6 separate regions of the Homo sapiens genome follow, and regions 2, 3, 4, 5 and 6 are each linked to region 1. Evidence: fine-mapped expression QTL. A gene starts in region 1. Each other region holds a variant in brackets. All regions are shown on one strand. Distances are between the middles of the regions. Region 1 holds the start of KCTD7 (potassium channel tetramerization domain containing 7). Region 2 overlaps LINC03006 (long intergenic non-protein coding RNA 3006). Region 3 overlaps TPST1 (tyrosylprotein sulfotransferase 1). Region 4 overlaps GUSB (glucuronidase beta). Region 5 holds the start of LINC03129 (long intergenic non-protein coding RNA 3129). Region 6 has its middle 3.9 kb from the start of GUSB.

Region 1 (4,087 bases):
ATAGCCATGCATCCTTTTCAATATTACATCTCTCCTGCTCCAGTGAAAGTCTGCTTATCTACACAGTACCTTTCCCAGCTTTCAAATCCTTTGTGAAATAAAATAGGGTACAAATACATTAAATAAAGCTGACCCAGGGCCTTGTGCAGCGCCTGGCTCAAATAAAGACCCAAAATTCACCGAATGAATGAAAGAAATAGACAGGTAGTTACACTTCCGTGTGTGTATGCACTGTTACTCTTCTGCACCCACAGGACATGAAAATGCCTTGCGCTTATTCTGTAGGTCCTCTAAAACCATTTTATGTGTATATCAAGGGCTCAGATATCATTTTGGAATAATAATACTTAACATTTCTGGAGCTCTTTAAACCTTTTCTAAAGATACTTCATACCAATCCAAGTGCTTGCTCCATATTAGAGATGAGAGGATTGAAGCAGAGAGGACAAAAGCCATCGGAAACAGTTTTGGAGCTCACATGGGGCAATGTCATCAGTGGGGGGAACTGGTGGTGGGGCCCTGGTCTGCAATCTGTGGTCTTGTGCTCTTTCCCTCAAACCATATCATTTTCCCAATGACAGTGCACAAAAAAATAGCACCACTGTGACTAATGACTTTTTTCCAATTGCAGAGATTACTTCTAGATTTTTGCTCATTTTCCCATGGCATTGTGTGTATGGGGCTTGCAATCCCAGCACAACACTATCTGCTTCCCAAGAGCATCACCTAGCCCAGCCTGTTGAGGGCCTCAATTGTTGAGGGCCTCCATTGTCCTGGGACTCCGCATACCACATGCTCCTGGATCTGGCACTACCTTAGTCCCTGCCTCCTAGAAGCCATCTTCGGTGTCCAGTAATGCTTCACCTTCCCTCCTCTTTATTTTTTATTTGTAGAGATGGAGTCTGTGTTGCCCAAGCTGGTCCCAGACTCCTGGCCTCAAACCATCCTCCTGCCTTGACCTCCCAAAGTGCTGGGATTACAAGTGTAAGCCACCACACCTGGCATCGTTTCCCTTCTCTTGCTTTTTTTGTTTTTGTTTGTTTGTAGGTACGGTCTTACTCTATCACACCCAGGCTGGAGTACAGTGGCACAATTACAGCTCACTGCAGCCTCAACCTCCAGGGCTCAAGCAATCCTCCCAACTCACCTTCCTGAGCACCTGGGACTACAGGCACACACCACCAAGCCTGGCTAATTTTCATTTTTGTAGAGGCAGGGTCTCACTGTTGCCCTGACTAGTCTCTAACTGCTGGGATCAAGCAATCCTCCCACCTCAGCATCCCAAACTGCTGAGATTACAGATGTGAGCCACCATGCCTGGTATCTTCTCCCGTCTCTTGAGTGTCATTTCAGGTGTTGACATGATAGTATCACACACATTAAGTAAGACCCGTGGAAGCCCCTGTGCACCAGAGCACAGCAGCCTGTGAGTGAAAGCCATGGGATGCCAGGTGACCGTGCCTACATCTATGAACTGGCCTGCCCCTTATGTGCAGACAGCTCCTTGCCTTGTTCCTTAGGTAGCTGGAGACTAGGTGTGGGCAACCACTACAGCATCCTGTTGGATTCTCTAGAAGACATCTTTTTCTTTTCTTTTTTTTATTCATCCAACCCAAAATGCCTTTGTTTTTCCAGTCGTAGTAGGGACGGGGCCTCGCTATGTTGCCCAGGCTGGCCTCCAACTCCTGCCCTCAAGCGATCCTCCCTCCCAATGTGTTGGGATTACAGGCTCGAGCTACGGTGCCTGGTCAGACACACCATCAGCTCTCGGGGCTCCAGGGTCCCCCTCCCACGGCCCACCCTCCCTCCTGTCTTCGGTAAAAGTGGGACATGGCGATGGGAGTAAATCACCCCAGTGACTACTGGGCGGAGGGTGTAGGGGGTGGGGAAGCACACCTAGTGGGTGTAATTGACAGGGGTTGAAGGTGGGTGGGTAGGGGTGCAGGTGGGCGGGGGAGTTGCAGGTGGGCGGGGGAGGGGCGCAAGTCCGCGGGCCCCGCCCCCAACCCCGGCCCCGCCCACCCGCCGAGGACCGCTATGCCCCGCGCCCGCTTCTCCCCCGCGCCCCTCCCCACGCCCCGCGGCCCGCCGCCCGCCCGGGTACCTCCTGTGGCAGCAGGGGCAGCGCGTGCCCCGCCTGCGTGGCCGTCGGCGTGGCCGGCTCCAGAAAGTCGTCTTCGGCGTCAGAGCTGGACATGGCACCGTCCTGACGACGGCTGTCTGGCTCCCGCCCCGTGACTACCACCATCCCTCTGGCTCTGGGCAGTGGGCGCGGCTTCGGGCGGGCGGAGGCGGCGGCCCCGGGCACTCCCTACCGCCGAGCAGCGCCTGGCATGACGCGGCCGGCTGCGGGCTGGCCGGAGGGGGGCGAGAGGCAGTGCGCAGGCGGGAGGGCGGTGGCTCCCTCAACGCCGACCCGCTCGCGCCCAGCTGGGGCCTGACCCGACCGCCTCCCGCTACTGGCCGACGCCGCGCTGGTTCCGCCCTGATTGGCAGGAAGCTCGCCCAGTCGAAGAGCAGGCAGCGCCAGCGGCCGGCGCCTGAGTGGTCCCTGGGTTGGGGGGGGGGGGGGGGGGCGGCCTGCGAGCCTGCCGTGCACTGATTGGTCCTCTGGCCAGCGGGCGCGCCCTCTCCGAGAGACCCGGCGGTGGTGCGCCGCTACGCTCTCATAACTGGGCGTCGGAGTCTGCCGTGAAGAGGGTTCTCACCCGCGTCAGGGTAGACGCCTTATCCCTTCACACAGGGGGTCACGACTTACTCGTGTGTCTGGCCCCAGAGCAGCGGGTCCTTGTCTCCTCAATGGAAGGCCTGAGCAGCCTTTCCTGGAGGATGTGGCGGGAGGAGGGCTGAGGTGGCTGCGGACACGCCACCGCGGCTGGCCCCGCCCCGAGCCGCAGGGCACCGCCCGGGTGTCCAGTTCTTCCTCACTCGCTCGCGCAGAAATCCGAACGAGAAAACCCAAAATAGGAGCGCTTGAGTTCAATGAATAATGACAGTGACTCCCCACCGTGACCGTTTTTCCACCGGGACACACAGATGGAGACAGGCCCTTCCCCAAGATGCTCCCGGCTCCCTGGGAGGCGGAGTCCAGCCCTAGAGGCTCTATCAGCGCAGGGAGTCTCCTGGGGGTCAAGGTTCTTAGCCCGTTCAAGCCATTTTCTCCTTTCTTTAAAAGACAAAGTCTCACTCTGTTACCCAGGCTGAAGTGCAGTGGCGCAATCATAGCTCATTGCAACCCCTGGGCTCAAGCAATCCTCCCGCCCCAGCCTCCCGAGTAGCTGGGACCACAGACGCGCACCACCACACTCAGCTGATTTTTTAAAATTTTGGCCGGGCGCAGTGGCTCACGCCTGTAATCCTGGCTCTTTGGTAAGCGATGCGGGTGGATCACCTGAGGTCAGGAAGTTGAGACCAGCCTGGCCAACATGGTGAAACCTCATCTCTACTAAAAATACAAAATTAGCCAGGCATGGTGGCACACCTGCAATCCCAGCTACTAGGGAGGCTGAGGCAGGAGAATCGCTTGAACCCAGGAGATGGAGATTGCAGTGAGGCGAGATCACGGCCACTATACTCCAACCTGGGCAACAAGAGCGAAACTCCGTCTCAAAAAAGAAAAAAAAATTTTTTTTTTTTTTTTTTTTTAAGAAATGGGGTCTTGTCATGTTGCCCAGGCTGGTCTCAAACTCCTTGCCTCAAGCTGTCCTCCCTCGTCAGCCTCCCAAAGTGCTGGGATCGCAGGCGTGTGCAACCATGCTTCTCCTTTTCAAACCGTTTTCACACCCAGTTCCTCATCTCATTCTCACAGTGTAGTGACAGAAAAGAAAACTGAGTCGTAGATTAGACAGCTCCAGGATGGCAAAGATGAGCTGGTGGCATAGCACTTCCTCTGTTAGACCATCGCACTCCCAGCTGCAGGAGTGTCCTAGGTCTGTGTTTTCTCCAACTTCAGTTGCATCAAAATCCCTGGAGGGAGACCTTGTTTAAACACAGATGAAAAGGAATGAAATCACGTCATCTGCAGCAACGTGGATGGACGTCATTATGTTAAGTGAAATAAGCCAGGCACAGAAAGACATAAATATTG
Region 2 (4,087 bases), 940 kb after region 1:
CAGGAGAATTGCTTGAACCCGGGAGGCAGAGGTTTCAGTGAGCCGAGATCAAGCCACTGCACTCCAGCCTGGGTGACAGAATGAGACTCTGTCTTCAAAAAAAAAAAAAGGAAAGAAAAGCAAAGAAAAGAAAACTCAGACCACCCTAGCTACACTGCAGAAGGAGATGCCAAAGCTGCCTGCCAACACATCAGGGCCCATCCTAAGCACAGAGGATACAAGCTGGATCATCCATGTCTGGTTCAGCTGTGTCAAAAAATGGGTGGGTGCTCAGAAGCTCTGGCACCAAGGGAAGCACCAGGGTTGGATGCCGACTTCCCAGAAACTTCAAGCACCTGAAACAAACAAATAAGAATGCACATCAACAAATTAGTAAAGTTAGTCCTTTGAAAAGTACTAGGAACTGGAATCAGAAAACCTGAACTGGAATTGGAAATTCTCAACCATATACTTTTGCTAACTCTATGACTTCAGATAAGTCACCCAGTTATTCTGGAACTTGGTTAATTCATCTAAAAAAACTGGTTATTATAAAGATAAAAGAACTGTTTATTTAACCAACAGCCATTTCCCCCATCTTTCTTCCTGAGAGAGCCCTGATTTTACTCAGGTATCAGGCAGGCAGCAAAGTGCTCGGAAAAGGCAGGTCCAGCCCAAGAGCTGAACCACTATTGGTCTAAACCCATCATGGCAACCCCATTCCCATTTTCCAGTGACTGGTTTGCTGGTACGCAAGTAAGCCAGTTCTAGACAATGGAGCACGAGAGTATGCTGGCTGGGGAGCTTCTCAGGGATGTTTTTGCAAATCAAAAGAGCAATGCATGAAAGGGAATGACCCTTCCTTTCTGTCTTGAGATATTATCTTATGAGGCAGCCATCTTACAACCATGAGAAGAAAGCCGGCCGGGTGCGGTGCCTCACGCCTATAATCCCAACACTTTGTGAGGCCAAGATGGCTGGATCAGGAGGTCAAGAGATCAAGACCATCCTGGCCAACATGGTGAAACCCCATCTCTGCTAAAAATACAAAAATTAGCTGGGCATGGCGGCACGGGCCTGTAGTCCCAGCTACTCGGGAGGCTGAGGCAGGAGAATCGCTTGAACCTGGGAGGCGGAGGTTCAGTGAGCCGATATTATGCCAATGCACTCCACCCTGGCGATAAAGAGAGACTCTGTCTCAAAAAAAAAAAAAAAAAAAAAAGAGCCAAGAGAACTGCAGAGAAACCAAAGAGAGCCCTGGTAACCTGTTGAATGACCAATCCTGAAACCAACCTTCTGACCTCGTTATGAAAAAACAGACTTATTGGCTAAGATATTTTTAATCAGATTGTCTTTTTTATTTGTGGGCAAAAACATTCTAATTGATATCCTGGGTGAAGTCCTGAAATCACAGATCTGTCTGAAACTAAGTAGCCTTATGCAAGTAAATTTTTTCATCTACAAAATGAGATTAAAAGTCATTACTTCATAGAGTTGCTATATGCATTAAATAACTAACATAAAGTACTCAGCAAAGTGTCTGTCACATAGTAAGAACTCAATGTTAGCTATTATAACTACCTGAGGGCCCTTTATAAACTATAAGGAACTATACAAGCAAGGTAATTATACATTTTTATTATTGTTTATGGTTTTTTTTTTTTTTTTTTGAGACTGAGTCTTGCTCTGTTGCCCAGGCTGGCATGCAGTGGCACAATCTCGGCTCACTGCAACCTCTGCTTCCAGGGTTCAAGCGATTCTCCTGCCTTTGCCTCCCGAGTAGCTGGGATTACAGGCATGTGCCACTACGCCCAGCAGATTTTTGCATTTTTAGTAGAGATGAGGTTTCACCATGTTGGCCAGGCTGGTCTTGAACTCCTGACCTCAGGTGATCCACCCGCCCCAGCCTCCCAAAGTGC[C/T]GGGATTATAGGCGTGAGCCACTGCACCCAGCCAATTAAGTGCACCTTCTAAACCAGAACTTAATGAATAAAAAATAATAAGGCCGGGCACAGTGGCTCATGCCTGTAATCCCAGCACTTTGGGAGGCCAGGGCAGGTGGATCACCTGAGGTCAGGAGTTCAAGACCAGCCTAACCAACATGGTAAAACCCCATCTCTACTAAAAAAAAAAACAAAAATTAGTTGGGTATGGTGGCGTGCACCTATAATCCCAGTTACTCGAGAGGCTGAGGCAGGAGAATCGCTTGAACCCAGGAGGCAGAAGTTGCAGTGAGCTGAGATCACGCCACTGCATTCTAGTCAGGGTGACAGAGCGAGACTCCATCTCAAAAAAAAAAAGTAACAAAACAAAACACTATATAGGAGAAAGAGGAAATCTAATTAATTTATTTCTATACTTGTAACAGCTACCACAAGGGTTGGTGCGTAGTCAGCACACAGCAGGCACATAATATTTGCTAGGTGGATAGATGCACAAATTAGTAAGTAATCTAAAATGTGATATTCAGCTTAGGAATCAGATTCCTGAGAGCGGTTAAGTTCAATCAGGTTTCTAAAGTAAAGGCAAAATTCAGGGCCGTACCACCCTCAATCTATAAGGACGGAACAAATGTCAGCATTGTACATTTACCACATTATGCGACTCAGTGAGTAAATGGGCAAAAAAGTCATTACTTCCATATGGAGTCCCTATCAGTAGGGTACTTGGTTAAATTTTTCAGCAGCTCCACCAATGCAAGATGAATCCCTTCTTTGGTTGAAACATTAGTACAGCATAAGAGTTCATGAAGAGCCTCTCGAATATCTCTGGCTGAATCCTTTTAAAAAAAAGTAATAATAATAGTAGTTACTGTTGGTTAGCAGACTCAGCCTCTATCTACCATCCCCTTCTCCCCAGCCACCTTCCCATCTAGGGTGGCCATGTAACAAAGTATGTGGAAGTTTTTTGGATGAAATTCCTGAAATATCTTTCATTTTATTGATAAAGGACCAGAGGCAGTAGCTTTATCCCCTTTCTTCTTTAACCTTCCTTTTCCATCCTATCTGGGACTCAATCATGATGCTGAAGGTACAAGAGCCTTTTTGCAACTAGGAAAAAGGACAGGCTAAGAAGAAAGGCTAAGAGAGAGGCTGGGAATGGCCAGTTAGCAGAACACTCAGAACACACACACTTACTAAGTTTGCCATCTTATACAGGCACAGTTTGTGGCATCCCAAAGCAATTACAACAGTAACATCAAAGATCACTGATCACAGATCACTGTAACAGATGTAATAATGAAAAAGTTTGAAATATTGCAAGAATTACCAAAATGTGACACAGACATAAAGTGAGCACATGCTATTGGAAAAATGGCACTGATAGACTTGCTCAATGCATGGTTGCCGCAATCTCTCAATTTATTAAAAAAATACAATATCTGCAAAGCCCAATAAAGAGAGGTATACCTGTATGTGCTAAATGGAGGAGTGAGGGAAAGAGTCGATCTATCTGAAGTGAATTTCAAGATTTCAAGAATGAGAAATGTTAAAAGAGAGGCAAATCGAAATGTCACTCCTATCCATAAAATTCTGCAACAGTTTTCCATAATGTTAGAATAAAATCCAGACATCTTAAAATGGCCTACAAGGCTCTCCACCTCTCCCTAATCCCCTCTCAGACTTCATTTCATGCCACATTTCTACTTTCTCACTGTGGTTCACTCCTACTGGCTTTCTCTCTATTCTGCAAACACAACAAAGCTCACTTGTGTTTTAGAGCCTTCCCACTAGCTGTTGCCTCTACCTGAATTTATTCTCCCGGTCTTCACATAGCTAGCTTCTGTTTACCATTCAAGACTCAACTTGAACATCATCTCCTCAGAAAGTCTTTACTAACCACTCAAATTACAGAGAAATTCCCCATTCCTCCATCATACTGTTTATCTTCTGCAAAACATTTATCACCATCTGAAATCATTTTGTTTGTTTACTCCACCTCTCTTTAGAATATAAGTTTTATGACAGCAGGGATCCTGTCTGTTTTGATATCCCTATATTTCTAATACATAGACAGTGCTTGTTGAATAAAGAAGTGAGTTTTTCTAGGCAGGGTAGGATCTTGACATAGCAGGAAAAAAAAAAAAGGCAAATTCCACCTGGAAGGGTCA
Region 3 (4,087 bases), 300 kb after region 1:
ATGTGGCAAATAACTGGCATCTCCAGCCAACAGCCAGTGAAAACCTGAGGCCTGCCAACAGTCACATGAGAGAGCTTGAAGGCAGATCCTCTCCCAGCTGAGCCTTGGATGACTGCAGCCCAGCTGACAGCTTGACTGCAACTTCATGAAAGATCCTGAGCTAGAAGCATCTAGGTAGCTTTGCCTGGATTCCTGAACCACAGAACCTATGAGACAACACGTTTGTTGATTTAAGCCATTAATACGTTTTAGAATAATTTGTTATGCTTCATATATAAATCATACAGATTTTGGTATCAGGAGTAAAGTTCCATTGTCACACATACCAAAAATGTGGGAGGAATATTAGAACTGGGAAATAGGTTCTAATAATAGGGCCCAGTTCTAATACTTTAAGGCCTTTCAGGAGAGGAGCAGTAAAGCCTAAATTGCCAGGAATTGATAGTTGGTAGATTTTAGATTGTTAGGAGGTGGACTGTGAGTTTTAAGGAATGTGAGGAACATCTGAGTAGAAACTGGAGGCAAGGGATCTCTGTTAGGTAGTTGTGGAAAGTTTAGCAACCCAATTTTACAGTGATGTGGAAGGTAGAAAATGTGCCGAATGAATTAGATGGTCTAGCTAAAAAGATTTCCAAGCAAAGTTAACTGCCAGGTTTCTTCTTGGTGTTTACAATAAGATGTAAGAGGACAGAGAAATTGAGGGAAAGATGGTTTAAAAGGAGCCAGGACACAATGGTTTTGAAAGTGGATGTGAAAATTCTTAGCCTCACCATCTTCAACACTAGCAGTGTGGCAAGCTCACATTTCCTACACTTATTCTGCTTCCCATCTTCAGAGCCCCTTCTCTACCTTCAACTCCCTTGCCTCTCCTTTATGAGGACCCTGGTGATTACTTTAGGCCCACCAGATGATCGGTAATCTCCTCATCTAAAATTCCTTAATTCCATCTGTAAAGTTCCTTTTGCCAGATAAGGTAACATATTCACAGACCCCAGGGATTAGGAAATGGCCATCTGGGTTGATTTGTTTTTCCAACTTTTATTTAGATTCAGGGGGTACATGTGCAGGTTTGTTACAGGGGTATAGTGTGTGATGCTGAAGTTTGGGATATGATTGAACCTGTCACCCAGGTAGTGAGCACAGTACCCAATAGGTAGTTTTTCAACCCTTATTTTTCCTTCCCTCTTCTGCCCTCTTGTATTCCCAGTGTCTACTGTCCCCATCTTTATGTCCATTTGTACCCAGTGTTTACCTCTCACTTACAAGTGAGAACATGAGGTACTTGGTTTTCTGTTTCTGCATTAATTCACTTAGGATAATGGCCTCAAGCGCCATCCAAACTGCTGCAAAGAACATGATTTCGCTCTTTGTTATGGCTGTGCAATATTTCATGGTGTATATGTACACATTTTCTTTATCTAATGGAAGTGGACATCTTTATGGAGCCATCATTCAGTCTACTACTTGCAAGCAATAGACAACTAATGCATTATATTTAGAATTTCTGCAGTTTATAAAGAGGAACATAGGGATGAACAAAGTGTCATATACTGGAGAAACGCCAGTCATATAGCCCTCACAAACAAAAACCTCATACACGTCTTCAAATTTTAACATAATCAGTTGTCGAGGAAAATGCTTTTATTCTTAGGGATATGCGCTGAGGAAGCATAATATCTGCAACTTTCAACTAATACCAATAAAAAAAAAGCCATGTGAGTATACATATGCACAGAGAAGATAAAGCAAATATGGCAAAATTTTAACAATAATTCTCTGTTAGGGTATATAGGTATTTATGGTACTATTCTTTCCAGGTTTCTCTATAAAAAATTGGAAAAAATCAGGAAGATAGTTTCAACACAACAAATATATTAACCATGCAAAGCTCACTGTAGTAGATTATAAGGAATATGTCATTTGTGGGCCAGGAGAAGTGGCTCACACCTATAATCCCAGAATTTCAGGATTCCTGCCTGAGGCAGATTGCTTGAGTTCCAGGAGCTCGAGAACAGCCTGGACAACA[T/C]GGAGAAGCCTCGTCTCTACAAAAAAATACAAGTATTAGCTGGGCGTGGTTGTGCGCACCTGTAATCCCAGCTACTTGGGAGGCTGAGGCAGGAGAATTGCTTGAGCCCGTGGGGTTGAGGCTGCAGTGAGCTGTGATTATGCCACTGCACTCCAGCCTGGGTGACAGAATGAGACCCTGTCTCAAAAAAAAAAAAAAAAAAAAAAATATATATATATATATATATAGAGAGAGAGAGAGAGAGAGAGAGAGAGCGGGAGAGAGAGAGAGTGAGAAAGAGAGAGAGAGAGGCTGGGATCCCAGCACTTTGGGAGGCCAAGACAGGCAGATCACTTGATGCCAGGAGTTCAAGACCAGCCTGGTCAACATGGCGAAACCTGGTCTCTACTAAAAATACAAAAATTAGCCAGGCGTTGTGGCATGTGCCTATAGTCCCAACTTCTCAGGAGGTTTAGGCAAGAGAATTGCTTGAACCCAAGAGGCAGAGGTTGCAGTGAGCCAAGATCATGCCACTGCACTCCAGCCTGGGCGACAGAGTGAGGCTGTCTCAAAAAAAACAACAAAAAAAAACTATTTCATTTGTGAATGGGCTAAAACTGAGAAACTCAGAGGTTAGCAACCTATTCTGTAACAAAGGCCAGGGTAAATATTTTAGGTTGTATGAACCACAGTCTCTGTTCCAACTACTCAGCTCTACTGCTGCAGGGCAAATGCAGCCACACAAAACATATAAATGATTGAGCATAGTATGTTCTAATAAAACTTTATTTACCAAAATGTATGATAGGGCCAGGCGCGGTGGCTCACGTCTGTAATCCCAGCACTTTGGGAGGCTGGGGCGAGAAGATTGCCTGAGCTCAGGAGTTTGAGACCAGCCTGGGCAACATGGTAAAACCCCATCTCTACTAAAAATACAAAAATTAGCTGGGCATGGTGGTGCACACCTATAATCCCAGCTACTCAGGAGGCTGAGGCAGGAGAATTGCTTGAACCTGGGAGACAGAGGTTGCAGTGAGCTGAGATCGCACCAATGCACTCCAGCCTGGTCTGGGTAACAGAGCAAGACTCTGTCTCAAAAAAAAAAAAAAAAAAAAAAAAAAAAGGAAAGGAAAAAAAAAAGAAAGAAAAAAAAACACCAAAAACACAACAAAGAGACAAACAAAATGTATGATAGGCCAGATTTGGCCTGCAGGCTGTGATTTGCTAACCTCTGATTTAACTAAAATCAGTTTTTAAAAAATAGATCTTTAGACCATCTCCAGAAATATGTACCAATGACTAAACTATGTGCTTAACACAACATTATGCATTATGGACTCTACATTTTTGCTTTTTCTCATAGTTTTCTTCAACGTACATACACACACACACACGCACTTTTTTTTTTTTTTAAGACAGGGTCTTTCTCTGTCACCCAGGCTGGAGTACAGTAGCACAATCACGGCTCACTGCAGCTTTGACCTCCCAGACTCAAGGGATCCTCCCACCTCAGCCTCCTGAGTAGCTAGGACTATGGGCACCTGCCACCACACCTAGCTAATTTTTGTATTTTTTATAGAGTCAGGGTTTTGCCATTTTGCCCATCCTGGTCTCAAACTCCTGGGTTCAAGCGATCCACCCACCTTGGCCTCCCAAAGTGCTAGGATTACAGGCGTGAACCACTGCACCCAGCTGTACATATACATTTTTTAACTCTAAAGGTTAAAAGACTAGTCTTACAACCAGGGGTTCTGAATTCAGATTTACTGTGAACTAAATATAATTTATCCCTCTCCTTTCTTTCTGTAAACTCATTGTAAACTCTAATATAATCCTTCCTTCCAATTATAGTCCAGAGCACAGAATTAATCAGAAGCCTTAGTTTCTGACAAACTTTCATCATTGGTTTATGCCTGGCCTGCTGTTATTTATTTAGTAATATAATTTATTATTTTTAAATAATGCAATAAACATTCCCCTTTGAAGAATTATGACTTGATAGTTTCACATGCAGAGAAAACAAATAACTCCAGCCAGATATGATTACACAAAAAGGAATCTGGAGTTTGAAATCCCCCTGGG
Region 4 (4,080 bases), 660 kb after region 1:
GGGAAACCTTTCTATTTCCACGGTGTCAACAAGCATGAGGATGCGGACGTGTGTTGGGGCTCCTGGGTCCTTGTCGGGGCTGCTTCTGGTCACCCTCCACTTTCGCCTTCCCTGTGTCCTGCAGTTGAGGGCAGCTCAGGGCAATGAGGCAAATGGCTCCAAATGGAGAGGGGGCTCATGGGGTGGCTCTCCAGGGTCCTGGCTCTCAGAGGAAGTGCAGCTTCGACAGGGACAGGGGTCACTTGGCTCTGCTATCTCCTAGATCCGAGGGAAGGGCTTCGACTGGCCGCTGCTGGTGAAGGACTTCAACCTGCTTCGCTGGCTTGGTGCCAACGCTTTCCGTACCAGCCACTACCCCTATGCAGAGGAAGTGATGCAGATGTGTGACCGCTATGGGATTGTGGTCATCGATGAGTGTCCCGGCGTGGGCCTGGCGCTGCCGTGAGTCTCTGCTGTGCACCTGCTCCGCCTGCCCAGCCCGGGGGCGTCACCGTGACCCTCTGTCCCTTCCCTCCTGGCCCGCAGGCAGTTCTTCAACAACGTTTCTCTGCATCACCACATGCAGGTGATGGAAGAAGTGGTGCGTAGGGACAAGAACCACCCCGCGGTCGTGATGTGGTCTGTGGCCAACGAGCCTGCGTCCCACCTAGAATCTGCTGGCTACTACTTGAAGTGAGTGCTCCCTCCCTGCCCTCGGCTAGAGTGGGAAGGAGACCCTGGCAGGTGGCTGGCCTCGGTGGGCATGTGCTGTTCAAGATCGGCCTCGTGTCCAGCCCAATGGGAAGGCCGTCCATACCCAGATAGTTCAGGGGACCAAATATCTACCCACCCAAATTGTGGTTTTCTTTTTTGTTCTTTTTTTTTCTTTTTGAGATGGAGTCTCACTATATGGCCCAGGCTGGAGTGCAGTGGGGTGATCTCCGCTCATTACAACCTCTGCCTCCTGGGTTCAAGTGATTCTCCTGCCTCAGTCTCCTGAGTAGCTAGGATTACAGGCACCCATGAACCACTGTGCTGGGGCTGTTTTTTTTTTTCAAAATGGGTTCTCACTCTGGTTGCCCAGGTTGGAGTGCAGCGGTGCAGTTTTGGCTTACTGCAGCCTTGACTTCCCAGGCTCAGGTGATCCTCCTGTCTCAGCCTCCCAAGTAGCTGGGATTCTAGATGTGTGTCATCACGCCCAGCTAATTTTTGCTTTATTTTTTATTTTTTGGATATGCAGTCTCCCTCTATTGCCCAGGATGGAGTGCAGGGGCATGATCTCAGCTCACTGCAACCTCTGCCGCTCAGGTTCAAGTGATTCTCCAGCCTCAGCCTCCCGAGTAGCTGGGATTACAGGCACATGCCACCACGCCCAGCTAAGTTTTCCTTTTTTCCTTTTTATGAGATGGAGTCTCACTCCGTGGCCAGGCTGGAGTGCAGTGGCGCAATCTCGTCTCACTGCAACCTTCACCTTCCAGGTTCAAGTGATTCTCCTGCCTCAGCCTCCTGAGGAGTTGGGATTACAGGCACACGCCAACATACCCTGCTAATTTTTGTATTTTTAGCAGAGACGGGGTTTCACCATTTTGGCTAGGATGGTCTCGATCTCTTGAACTCATGATCCGCCTGCCTCGGCCTCCTGAAGTGCTCGGATTACAGGCGTGAGCTACCACGCCTGGCCAACTTTTGCATTTTTCAGTAGAGACGGGGTTTCACTATGTTGGGCCAGGCTGGTCTTGGACTACTGACCTCAGGAGATCCACTTACCTCGGCCTCCCAGAGTGCTGGGATTACAGGCGTGAGCCACCGTGCCCGGCTAATTAGAGACTGGGTTTCACCATGTTTGCCAGGCTGGCGTGGAACTCCTGGCCTCTAGTGATCCTCCTGCCTCACCTTCCCAAAGTGCTGGGATTACAGGTGTGAACCACCACACCTGGCCCCCTTTTCTTCCTTACAATCGTGCAGTTCTAACTCAGCGTTCAGAGTTGGATTTTTCACTTGGGGTAGAAGCAGGAGAGGTGGTAGAAATGCCTCTTGACTCATACAGCACACCCCAATTTCATGCAGTGCTTTGGGCTGAGCCAAGTCTGCAGCAGGCAGAAGGCTCTGAGAAGTTGTTGCAGCCTGGGCCAAGGACAATTCAGAGCTTGGGGGCACAGGGGTGTGCTCAGCAGGACTGGGTGGACAGGCCCTTTGTTGCGAAGGGGAAGAGTACAGGCTTCCAGGAGCAGGTGTTTGAGGCTTCTTTGGGAGGTGGCCAGAGGAGATGCCTGTTTTCTGGGGCAGGATTTGGAGGGAGCCACCCAGGCTGGAGAGGTTCAGCCAGGCTGTCACAGGCTTTGAAGTTTCCCATCTGAGAGCCTGGCTGTTGGAGAGTGTGGGTTTGGAACTTGAGGCTAGGGGGTTCTTTTCTGATCTGTGCCAGCCACAGCCTTCGGATAGGCAGAGCAATGATGGGGGAGGG[C/T]GTAAAAGAAGAAATGAACTGAGGAAAGAGAAGAGGAAAACAGGCTTCAACAACAGTCTAGGCTGGGTGCGGTGGCTCACGCCTGTAATCCCAGCACTTTGGGAGGCCAAGGTGGGTGGATCACCTGAGGTCAGGAGTTTGAGACCGGCGTGGCCAACAGATATTGAAACCCTGTCTCTACTAAAAATAAAACAATTAGCGGAACACAGAGGTGGGCGTCTGTAATCCCAGCTACTTGGGAGGCTGAGGCAGGAGAATTGCTTGAGCCCAGGAGGTGGAGGTTGCAGTGAGCCAAGATCATGTCATTGCACTCCAGCCTGGGCTACAGAGTGAGATTCTGTCTCTCAAAAAAACAAAAACAAAAACAGTCTGTACTGTGGAGGCCTCGGGCAGGTGCCAGGAGCTCTGAGCACAGACGGGTCCCTCTGTTGGGTTTTTCTTCCCTTCTAAGGGCCATTTCTTCTTATTTATTTATTTATTTTTTGAGATGGAGTTTTGCACTTGTTGCCCAGGCTGGAGTGCAATGGCACAATCTCGGCTCACCACAACCTCTGCCTCCTGGGTTCAAGTGATTCTCCCGCCTCAGCCTCCCGAGTAGCTGGGATTACAGGCATGCGCCACCACGCCCAGCTAATTTGTATTTTTAGTAGATATGGGGTTTCTCCGTGTTGGTCAGGCTGGTCTCGAACTCCCAACCTCAGGTTATCTGCCTGCCTCAGCCTCCCAAATAGCTGGGGCCACAGGTGTGTGCGGCCATGTCAGGCTAAGTTTAAATTTTTTTTTTTTTTTCCGCAAGATGGAGTCTTGCTTGTTGCCCAGGCTGGAGAGCACTGGTGCAATTTTGGCTCACTACAACCTCTACCTCCTGGGTTCAGGCAATTCTTCTGCCTCAGCCTCATGAGTAGCTGGGATTCCAGGCGCATGCCACCATGCCCAGCTAGGTTTTTTTTGTATTTTTTTGTAGAGATAGACTTTTACCATGTTGACCAGGCTGGTCTCAAACTCTTGACCTCATGATCCACCCGCCTCGGCCTCCCAAAGTGTTGGGATTACAGGCGTGAGCCACCATGCCCGCCCCTAATTTTTAAATTTGTTGTAGAAACAAGGTCTTGCTATGTTGCCCAGGCTGGTCTTGAACTCCTGGTCTCTGGTAAAACTCCCAAAGTGCTGGGATTCTAGGCGTGAGCCGCCTTGCCCGGCACTTGCACCATTTCTCTGCATGCGTCTCCACTCCCACTGCCCAGGACCTGTGGACTTAGATTTGAGTCACTGCTGAGCACCTCGCACCTAGCCCCATGCCTGCCTCCCAGCCTGCACTCCGTTTGCTTGATGCATTAATAAATATCCCTCCCAAATCTGCATCCATCCACCTCCTGTGTTCAAGAGCTGTTTCAGGGCGTCAACCTCATTTTTGCCAGTGTCCAGCCTAGTGACCTCAGCTCTGTGTACCTGGAAGAGTGGCTGCTCCTCTGGGGGTATAGGATTCGGAGATGGGGGTAGAAGGAGTGATGTTAGAGAGCTCGGTCTAGGACTAGAGGATCATATGCCCTTATGTAAAATACATCTCAAGTTAGGGAAGAAAGCAGCGGCTCCATGCTTTTTTTTTTTTCCCCTTTGTTTTTGTTTGTTTGTTTTGA
Region 5 (4,087 bases), 790 kb after region 1:
TGGCAGGAGCTGGGTGTGTAGAGGCTGCTGAAAGGCAGGCGCTTGGCTTGTGGGGGGCCACGGTGAGGCAGATGCTGGGCCTGGAGAATCTGCTGTGAGGCAGATATTGGGCCCGTAGAGGCTGACAGAAGGCAGGAGCTGGGCCTGGAGAGGCTGCCAGGACACAAAAGCTGGGCCTGAAGAGGCTGCCAAGAGGCATGAGCTGGGCCTAAAGAGACCAGTGTGACAAGAGATCGGCCTGGAGAGGCCGACTTGAGGAAGATTTTGGCCTAGAGAGTCTGTCAGGGGCAGGAACTGGGCCTGGAGAGGCCACCGTGAGGCATGAACTGGGCCTAATGATGCCAGTGTGAGGCAGGAGCTGGGCCTGTCAAGGCTGCTGGGAGGTAGGCAGGAACTTGGCCAGGGATGACCTCCGTGAAGCAAGAGCTGGGCCTGGAAAGGCCATTGTCATGCAGGAGCTGGGCCTATCCAGGCTACCAAGAGGCAGAAGATTGTGCTGGTGAGCTTGACGTGAGGAAGTTTTGGGCCTACAAAGGCCTCCAGGAGCTGGGCAGGAGCTGAGCCAAAAGAGATTGTTGTGAGGCAGGAGGTGGGCCTGGAGATTCAGCTAGGAGGAAGAACTGGGCCTGGAGAGGCTCACTTGTGGAAGTTCTGTGACTAAAGAGGTTGCAAAAAGGCAAAAGCTGGGCCGGAATGGCCACCATGAGGCAGGAGCTTGGCCTAGAGAGGCCACTGGGAGGCAGGAGCTAGGCCTGTAGAGGCTGCCGAAAGGCAGGAGCTTTGCCTGGGAGGCTGTGGTGAGGCAGATACTGGGCCTGGAAAGTCTGCTGTGAGGCAGAGGTTGGGCCTGTAGAGGCCAATGGGAGGCAGGAGTTTGGGCTGAAATGGCAGACTTGAGAAAGTTCTCAGTCTGGAGAAGCCACCGGGATGCGGGAGCTGGGCCTGGAGAGGCCACTGAGAGGCATGAGCTGTGCCTAAAGAGGCCAGTGTTAGGCAGGAGCTGTGCCTGAAGAGGCGACTTGAGGAAGTTTTGGGCCTGGACAGCCCGTCGGAGGCAGGAGCTGGGCCTGGAGAGGCTGCCGTGAGGCATGAGCTGGGCGTAATGAGGTTAGTGTGAGGCAGGACCTGGGCCTGTCGAGGCTGCCGGGAGGCAGGTAGAAACTTGTTCAGGGAAGACCTCCGTGAGGCAAAAGCTGGGCCTGGAGAGTCAGCTGGGAGGCAAGAGCTGGGCCTGGAGATGCTGTTGTCACACAGGAGCTGGGCCTGTCCAGGCCATTGGGAGGCAGAAGGTGGGTCTGGAGAGCTTGACTTGAGGCAGTTTTGGGCCTACAAAGGCCACCAGGAGCTGGGCAGGAGCTGAACCAAAAGAGGTTGTTGTGAGGCAGGAGCTGGGCCTCCAGGCACAGCCAGGAGAAACCTCAGCCTTTAGAGGCCACCTGGAGGCAGCAGCTGGGTCTGGAGAGGCCAACGGAAGAAGGCAGGAGCTTGGCCTTGAGAGGCTGACTTATGGACATTTTGGGCCTGTATAGGCTGCCCAGAGGCAGGAGCTCGGACTAAAGAGACTGTTGTATGGCAGGAGCTGGGCCTGTACAGGCCACTGGGAGGCAAAAGGTGGGCCTCAAGAGTCCACTGTAAAACAGGAGCTGAGTCTTGGAAGGTGGCTGTGAGGCAAAAGATGGCCCTTGGGAGGCTGATGAGAGGCAGTAGCTGGGCCTGGTGAGGTTGACTTGAGAACCTTCTCTCTGGGCCTGGAGAGAAGGCTGGGAGGCAGGAGTTGGGCCTAAAGAGGCCATTGTAATGATGGAGCTGGGCCTGTGGGGGCTGCCATGAGGCAGCAGCCTCATCTGTGGAGACTGCCATGAGGTAGGGTATGGGCCTAAATAGGCCATTGTGAGCCACAAGCTTGGCCCGTAGAGGCCGACTGGAGAAAGTTCTGGACCTGGAGAGGCTGCCGGGAGGCAGGAGCTGAGCCAAAAGATTCAAGCGCATTACATTTATTAGGCACTTTATTTCCATTATTACATTGTAGTATATAATGAAATAATTATAGAACTCACCATAATGTAGAATCAGTGGACATGTTAAGCTTATTTTCCTGCAACAAGATGGTCCCATCTGA[A/G]TTGATGGAAGAAAGTGACAGATAATCAGGTATTAGATTCTCATAGGGACAGCACAACCCAGATCTCTCGCATGCACGGTTTGCATAGGATGCATGCTCCTATGAGAATCTAATGCTGCTGCTGATCTGAGAGAAGGCGGAGCTCAGGCGGGAATGTGAGCAATGGGGAGTGGCTGTAAATACAGATGCAGCTTCCCTCACTCAACACCACTCACCTCCTGCTGTGTGGCTCCTTACAGCTCCATGGCTCAGGGGTTGGGGACCCCTGCTGAAGTGCATCCAAAAGGACCATTCCCACACCAGTCTTCATAGCGGTCAAGTGCAGCAACCACTTAGCTCCCAAGGCATGTGCCTCAGCTGGCATTTCATCACAATCAACAGTAAGCAGTAGCTTGAGTCATTGTGAGGTCACTTCCTGGAAATCACCAGCATTCCGTTTCCCATTGGCAAGGAGCTCAGCACTGCCCCTTGGATAACCAAACCTATCCCCAAATCCCATCTGTGTGAGTCTATCTCCAGGGACCCTTCTTAGCATATTAGAGTCCAACCAGGAGACATAAACCACTCAAAAGTTTAAAGTGGTAAATTTAATACAGAGAATTATTCATTGTAACAGGGGAACAGCATAATGAGAGACTGGCTAGCACAAAGTAAAGAGAACTCCAGAGAATATAGGACTAGCCCAGGCCAGGCATGGTGGCTCATGCCTGAAATTCCAGCAATTTAAGAAGCCAACACAGGAGGACTGATTGAGGCCGGGAGCTAGAGATTGGCCTGGACAACACAGTGAGACCCTGTCTCTATCCAAAAAAAGAAAAAAATTAGCTGGGAGTGGTGGTGCACACTTGTAGTCCCAGCTACTCAGGAAGCTGAAGTAAGAGAATAGTTTGAGCCTGGGAGGTCAAGGCTACAGTGAGTCATGATTATGCCACTACAGTCAAGCCTGGGTGACACAGCAAGACCCCGTCTCAAACAAAACAACAAAACGACAACAACAACAACCATTTACAGACAGAAAAGAAATAGAGCTAATAAGCTAAGGGAAGATGCTGAAATGTGACCAAGTAATATGCGGTATTTTATCTATTTAAAATAATCAAACAAAAAATAACTTATTAAATTATAATACCCTGTGCAGGCAAAGGTGCAGTGAAATGGACACTTTCTTATACTAGGAGGGGTGTTTAAATTGTACATAGTCTTCCAAGGTAAAGGTTGGCAATTTTTTAAAATAATAGAGACAGGGTCTCACCTTACTGCCTCCTCCAACTCTTGGCCTCAAGCAATCCTCCTGTCTTAGCCTCCAAAGGGCTGGGATTATAGCCAGGAGGCACCCAAAACCTTGTCAATGTACATCAAGGGCAATGAGAATGCCCATTCACCATGACTCACAGTAATCTTACTTCTGGAAATACCTTGGGGAGACAATTCAATCTAAACAAAAGGTCATCTGCATAAACACAGTGAAATTCTGGGAGTAATTGAAAACAGAGTGGTTAAGTTAAGTAAGAAACAGTTATAAGAAATTATACTATGGTATTTATAGGCACCTGGTAAAAGGTCAGTTAATGTTAGCTGCTACTTTTTTGTTGCTTTGAGACAGGGTCTCACTCTGTCACCCAGGCTGGAGTGCAGAGGCCTGATCACGACTCACTGCAGTCTCAACCTCCTTGGACTCAAGTGATCTTCCCACAGCAGCCTCCCAAGTAGCTGGGACTACAGGAACATGTCACCACACTAGGATAATTCATGTACTTTTCTGTAGGGATGGTGTCTCCTTTGGTTTCCGAGGCCTGTCTCAAACTCTTGGCCTCAAGCCATCCTCCTACCTCAGCCTCCGAAAGTGTTGTGATTACTGGTGTGAGCCACCACACCTGGCCAGCTGCTACTTTTATTATTATTCCTCTCAATTAAAAATAATTTTCATTAAAAATTATCATTTTCAAGGCTATGGAACAATATGTGTCA
Region 6 (4,087 bases), 640 kb after region 1:
CCACTTGTTTTTTTATTTTGCCTTCCCCTACTACTCACTTTCTTTCCCTTTATTTATTTATTTATTTAAGACCGAGTCTTGCTCTGTTGCCCAAGCTGCAGTGCAGTGGTGTGATCTCGGCTCACTGCAACCTCTGCCTCCTGGGTTAAAGCAATTCTCCTGCCTCAGCCTCCCGAGTAGCTGGGATTACAGGCATGTGCCACCACACCCAGCTAATTTTTGTATTTTTGGTAGAGACGGGGTTTCACCATGTTGGCAAGGCTGATATCAAACTCCTGACCTCAGGTGATCCGCCTGCCTAGGCCTCCCAAAGTGCTGGAATTACAGGCATGAGCCACCCAGCCCGGCCTCTTTTTCCCTTTAAATATTGAAGTCCCCAGACCGTCTTTGGAAAAAAAAAGCATGCATCACAAATATTTCCTGTGGTTTTTATTTCTTTTTTCCTCCCACTGCATCCTCAACTTTCACAAAATGACCTCTAAAAATGACTGAGACACGCTTCAGTAATTTTCTTTGATTTACAAATGCTTACCAAATTCAGATGCTTTAATTCAGCAAAACACAACAGCTAAAACAAAGATATCAGAAAAATGTTGAATGGCTGGCCAGGTATGGCAGCTCATGCCTGTAACCTCAGCACTTTGGGAGGCCAAGGCTGGAGGATCACCTGAGGTCAGGAGTTTGAGACCAGCCTGGCCAACATGGTGAAACCCCGTCTCTACTGAAAATACAAAAATTATCCAGTTGTGGTGGTGAGCACCTGTAATCCCAGCTTCTTATTAGGCTGCGGCAGGAGAATTGCTTGAACCTGGGAGGTGGAGGTTGCAGTGAGCTGAGATTGTACCACTGCACTCCAGCCTGGGCAACAGCGTGAGACTCTGTCTCAAAAAAAAAAAAAAAAAAAAAAAAAAAAAGAAAGAAAGAAAGAAAGAAAGAAAGAAAAAAGAAAAATGTTGGATAGTATCTGTGTCTCTGAAAAAGAAACAGATCAGGCCAGGCATGGTGGCTCACTCCTGTAATCTCAGCACTTTGGGAGGCCAAGGCAGGCGGATCATGAGGTCAGGAGATCGAGATTATCCTGGGTAACATGCCTGTAATCTCAACACTTTGGGAGCCTGAGCTGGGAGGATTGCTTGAGGCCAGCAGTTCAAGGCCAGCCTAGGCAACATAGTGAAACCCTGAATACAAACTTTTTTTTTTTTTGAGACAGACTTTCATTCTTGTTGCCCAGGCTGGAGTGCAATGGTGAGATCTTGGCTCACTCCAACTTCCGCCTCCTTGGTTCAAGTGGTTCTCCGGCCTCAGCCTCCCGAGTAGCTGGGTTTACAGGCATGCACCACCATGTCTGGCTAATTTTGCATTTTCAGTAGAAATGAGGGTTTCTCCATGTTGGTCAGGCTGGTCTCAAACTCCCAACCTCAGGTGATCCACCTGCCTCAGCCTCCCAAAATGCTGGGATTACAGGCATGAGCCACCATGCCCAGACTAAAAAATGTTTTGTTTTTTTTTTGAGATGGAGTCTTGCTCCCTTCTCGCAGGCCGGAGTGCAGTGCTGTGATCTCAGCTCACTGCAACCTCCAGCTCCCAGGTTCAAGCAATTCTCCTTCCTCAGCCTCCCCATTAGCTGGGATTACAGGTGTGCACCACCACACTCGGCTAATTTTTGTATTTTTAGTGGAGATGGGCTTTTGCCATGTTGGCCAGGCTGGTCTTGAACTCCTGACCTTAGGT[G/A]ATCCACCTGCCTTGGCCTCCCAAAGTGGTAGGATTACAGGTGTGAGCCACCACACCTGGCCAACAAAATGTTGTAAAAATTAGCTGGACATAGGGTCAGGCATGAAGGCTTACACCTGTAATCCCAGCACTTTGGGAGGCCGAGGCAGGCAGATCACCTGAGGTCAGGAGTTCAAGACCAGCCTGGCCAACATAGTGAAACCCCGTCTCTACTAAAAATACAAAAATTAGCCAGGCATGGTGATGCACCTGTAATTCCAGCTATTCAGGAAGCTGAGGAAGGAGAATCGCTTGAACCTGGGAGGCGGAGGTTGCAGTGAGCTGAGATTGTTCCAATGTACTCCAGCCTGGGCGACAGAGTGAGACTCCGTCTCAAAAAAAAAATACATAAATAAAAATTTTTTTAAAAATTAGCTGGGTGTGATGGCATGTGTCTGTAGTCCCAGCTACTTGGGAGGCTAAGGCAGGAGGATCACCTGAGCCCAGGTGGTCGAGGCTACAGTAAACTGTGATGCAGCCTGGGTGCAAGACACTTTCTCAAGAAAAAAAAGCCTTTGCCAGGTGGTATGGCAGAGTGATTCAGAGTGACAGCATAAACACTTGGAAACAGATTGATTAGGTCAGATTCCCAGTTCTGCATCTTACTAGCTCTGTGGTGTTAGAAAAGTTACTGAACCTTCATGTGTCTCAGTTTCCACATTTGAGAAATGGTAGTAATAATAGTACCTATCCTGTGGTTTGGTTATGGTTTGTTTGGCCCCACCAAGTGTTGTGTTGAAATTTGATTCCCCACTGGGCCCAGTGGCTCACGCCTGTAATCCCAGCACTTTGGGAGGCCAAGGCAGGCGAATCACCTGAGGTCAGGAGTTTGAGACCAGCCTCAACATGAACAAACCCCATTTCTACTAAAAATACAAAATTAGCCGGGCATGCATGCCTGTAATCCCAGCTACTCGGGAGGCTGAGGCAGGAGAATTGCTTGAAACTGGGACGCGAAGGTTGTGATGAGCCAAGATGGCACCATTGCACTCCAGTTGGGGCAACAAGAGCGAAACTCTGTCTCAAAAAAAAAAAAAGAAAAAGAAAAAGAAAAAGAAATTTGATTCTCAATGTTGGAAGTGGGGCCTTGTGGGAGGTGTTTAGGTCATAGGGGCAGGTCCCTCATGAATGGCATGGTGCCATTCTCGTGGCAATTAGTGATTCTCACTCTTTTTTCTTTTCTTTTCTTTTTTTAATTTTTTGAGACAGAGTCTTGCTCTGTTCCCCCAGGCTGGAGTGCAGTGGTGTGATCTTGGCTCACTGTGACCTCCACCTCCCGGGTTCAAGTGATTCTCCTGCTTCAACTTCTCTAGTAGCTGGGATTACAGGCACCTGCCACCATGCCTGGCTAAATTTTGTATTTTTAGTAGAGATGGTGTTTTACCTTGTTGGCCAGACTGGTCTTGAACTCCTGACCTCAGGTGATCTGCCCGCCTCAGCCTCCCAAAGTGCTGGGATTATAGGCGTGAGCCACTGCCCCTGGCCTGAATTACTGATTTTTACATACTGTATAAACGTCTGCATCCTACTTTTTCTTACTTTTGTTAAATTTGGCCTAAAGCTGCCTCATAAACAGTGAACTGTATTCTAATTTAAGCATGTCAAGATTTCACTAATGAAATATAAAAGTAAAATTTAAAAAAAGAAAATATGAAAATAAAAAAACAATGTAAACATTTGGGAGAGAGCCTTTAGGCCTTGTCAGTTCCCAGAATGTACTTATTTTCACTATGCTGGGGACTCCATTTCCAGTATTGAGGTCCATTTTCAGAAGGTGGATTTGGTGAGCATGAAAAAAGGGGGTGGGGGAGTAATCATACAAACAATTGTGTCCAGGCCAGCTTCCTAGGACATGAGGGCTCCCTCTGTATGGCAGAGGCACCTGACATCCGTAACTGTTGTGCACCCTGCGAATGACTTTATGGTCTAAGAATGTATGTTCAGAGCCCCAGCTAAGGAATCAGGAGTGGCAAGATCCTGGAAGGATGCCAATCTATGAAACCCTGAGTCAAGAGGTCAAGCTGGGCACTTGTTTTCCTTTTTCTTTTTTTTTGTAGGAGTTTCACTCTTGTTGCCCAGGCTGGAGTACAATGGCGTGATCTCGGCTCACTGCAATCTCTGGTTCAGGCGATTCTCTCACCTCAGCCTTCCCGAGTAGCTGGGATTACAGACATGTGCCACCATGCCCAGCTAAATATGGAGATGCGGTTTCTCCATATTGGTCAGGCTGGTCTCGAACTCCCAACCTCAGGTGATCTGCCTGCTTCAGCCTCCCAAAGTGCTGGGATGACAGGCGTGAGCCACCGCACCTGGCCAA

Evidence for each region. PIP is the estimated chance that this variant, and not a neighbour inherited with it, causes the effect.
Region 2: its variant is the best candidate, but not a certain one, in a credible set for the expression of KCTD7 in whole blood (INTERVAL, PIP 0.51).
Region 3: its variant is the best candidate, but not a certain one, in a credible set for the expression of KCTD7 in whole blood (TOPMed, PIP 0.52).
Region 4: its variant is the best candidate, but not a certain one, in a credible set for the expression of KCTD7 in whole blood (TOPMed, PIP 0.81).
Region 5: its variant is the best candidate, but not a certain one, in a credible set for the expression of KCTD7 in whole blood (TOPMed, PIP 0.57).
Region 6: its variant is the best candidate, but not a certain one, in a credible set for the expression of KCTD7 in blood mononuclear cells (TOPMed, PIP 0.56).

What each region holds. Positions count from the first base shown.
Region 1 is chr7:66,627,226-66,631,312 of GRCh38, reverse strand. KCTD7 (potassium channel tetramerization domain containing 7) reads right to left here and starts at 2,432. Exons shown (of 4, transcript NM_153033.5): 1 at 2,105-2,432. The coding sequence starts at 2,248. RefSeq lists silencers at 2,072-2,641, 3,652-3,851.
Region 2 is chr7:65,687,976-65,692,062 of GRCh38, reverse strand. The region is part of intron 3 of LINC03006 (long intergenic non-protein coding RNA 3006); the gene reads left to right. It also overlaps the pseudogene INTS4P2. Among named protein-coding and RNA genes, the nearest start is that of SNORA22, 66 kb to the left of the region's middle. The variant C/T (reference allele first, on the strand shown) is at 1,899.
Region 3 is chr7:66,327,053-66,331,139 of GRCh38, reverse strand. The region is part of intron 3 of TPST1 (tyrosylprotein sulfotransferase 1); the gene reads right to left. Among named protein-coding and RNA genes, the nearest start is that of LINC00174, 71 kb to the left of the region's middle. The variant T/C (reference allele first, on the strand shown) is at 2,027.
Region 4 is chr7:65,970,887-65,974,966 of GRCh38, reverse strand. It overlaps GUSB (glucuronidase beta), which reads left to right. Exons shown (of 12, transcript NM_000181.4): 6 at 1-48; 7 at 263-441; 8 at 526-672. Among named protein-coding and RNA genes, the nearest start is that of GUSB, 9.3 kb to the left of the region's middle. RefSeq lists an enhancer at 266-976. The variant C/T (reference allele first, on the strand shown) is at 2,444.
Region 5 is chr7:65,836,061-65,840,147 of GRCh38, reverse strand. LINC03129 (long intergenic non-protein coding RNA 3129) reads right to left here and starts at 444. Exons shown (of 1, transcript XR_002956508.2): 1 at 1-444. RefSeq lists an enhancer at 595-1,106. The variant A/G (reference allele first, on the strand shown) is at 2,120.
Region 6 is chr7:65,984,079-65,988,165 of GRCh38, reverse strand. No RefSeq gene overlaps it. Among named protein-coding and RNA genes, the nearest start is that of GUSB, 3.9 kb to the right of the region's middle. The variant G/A (reference allele first, on the strand shown) is at 1,732.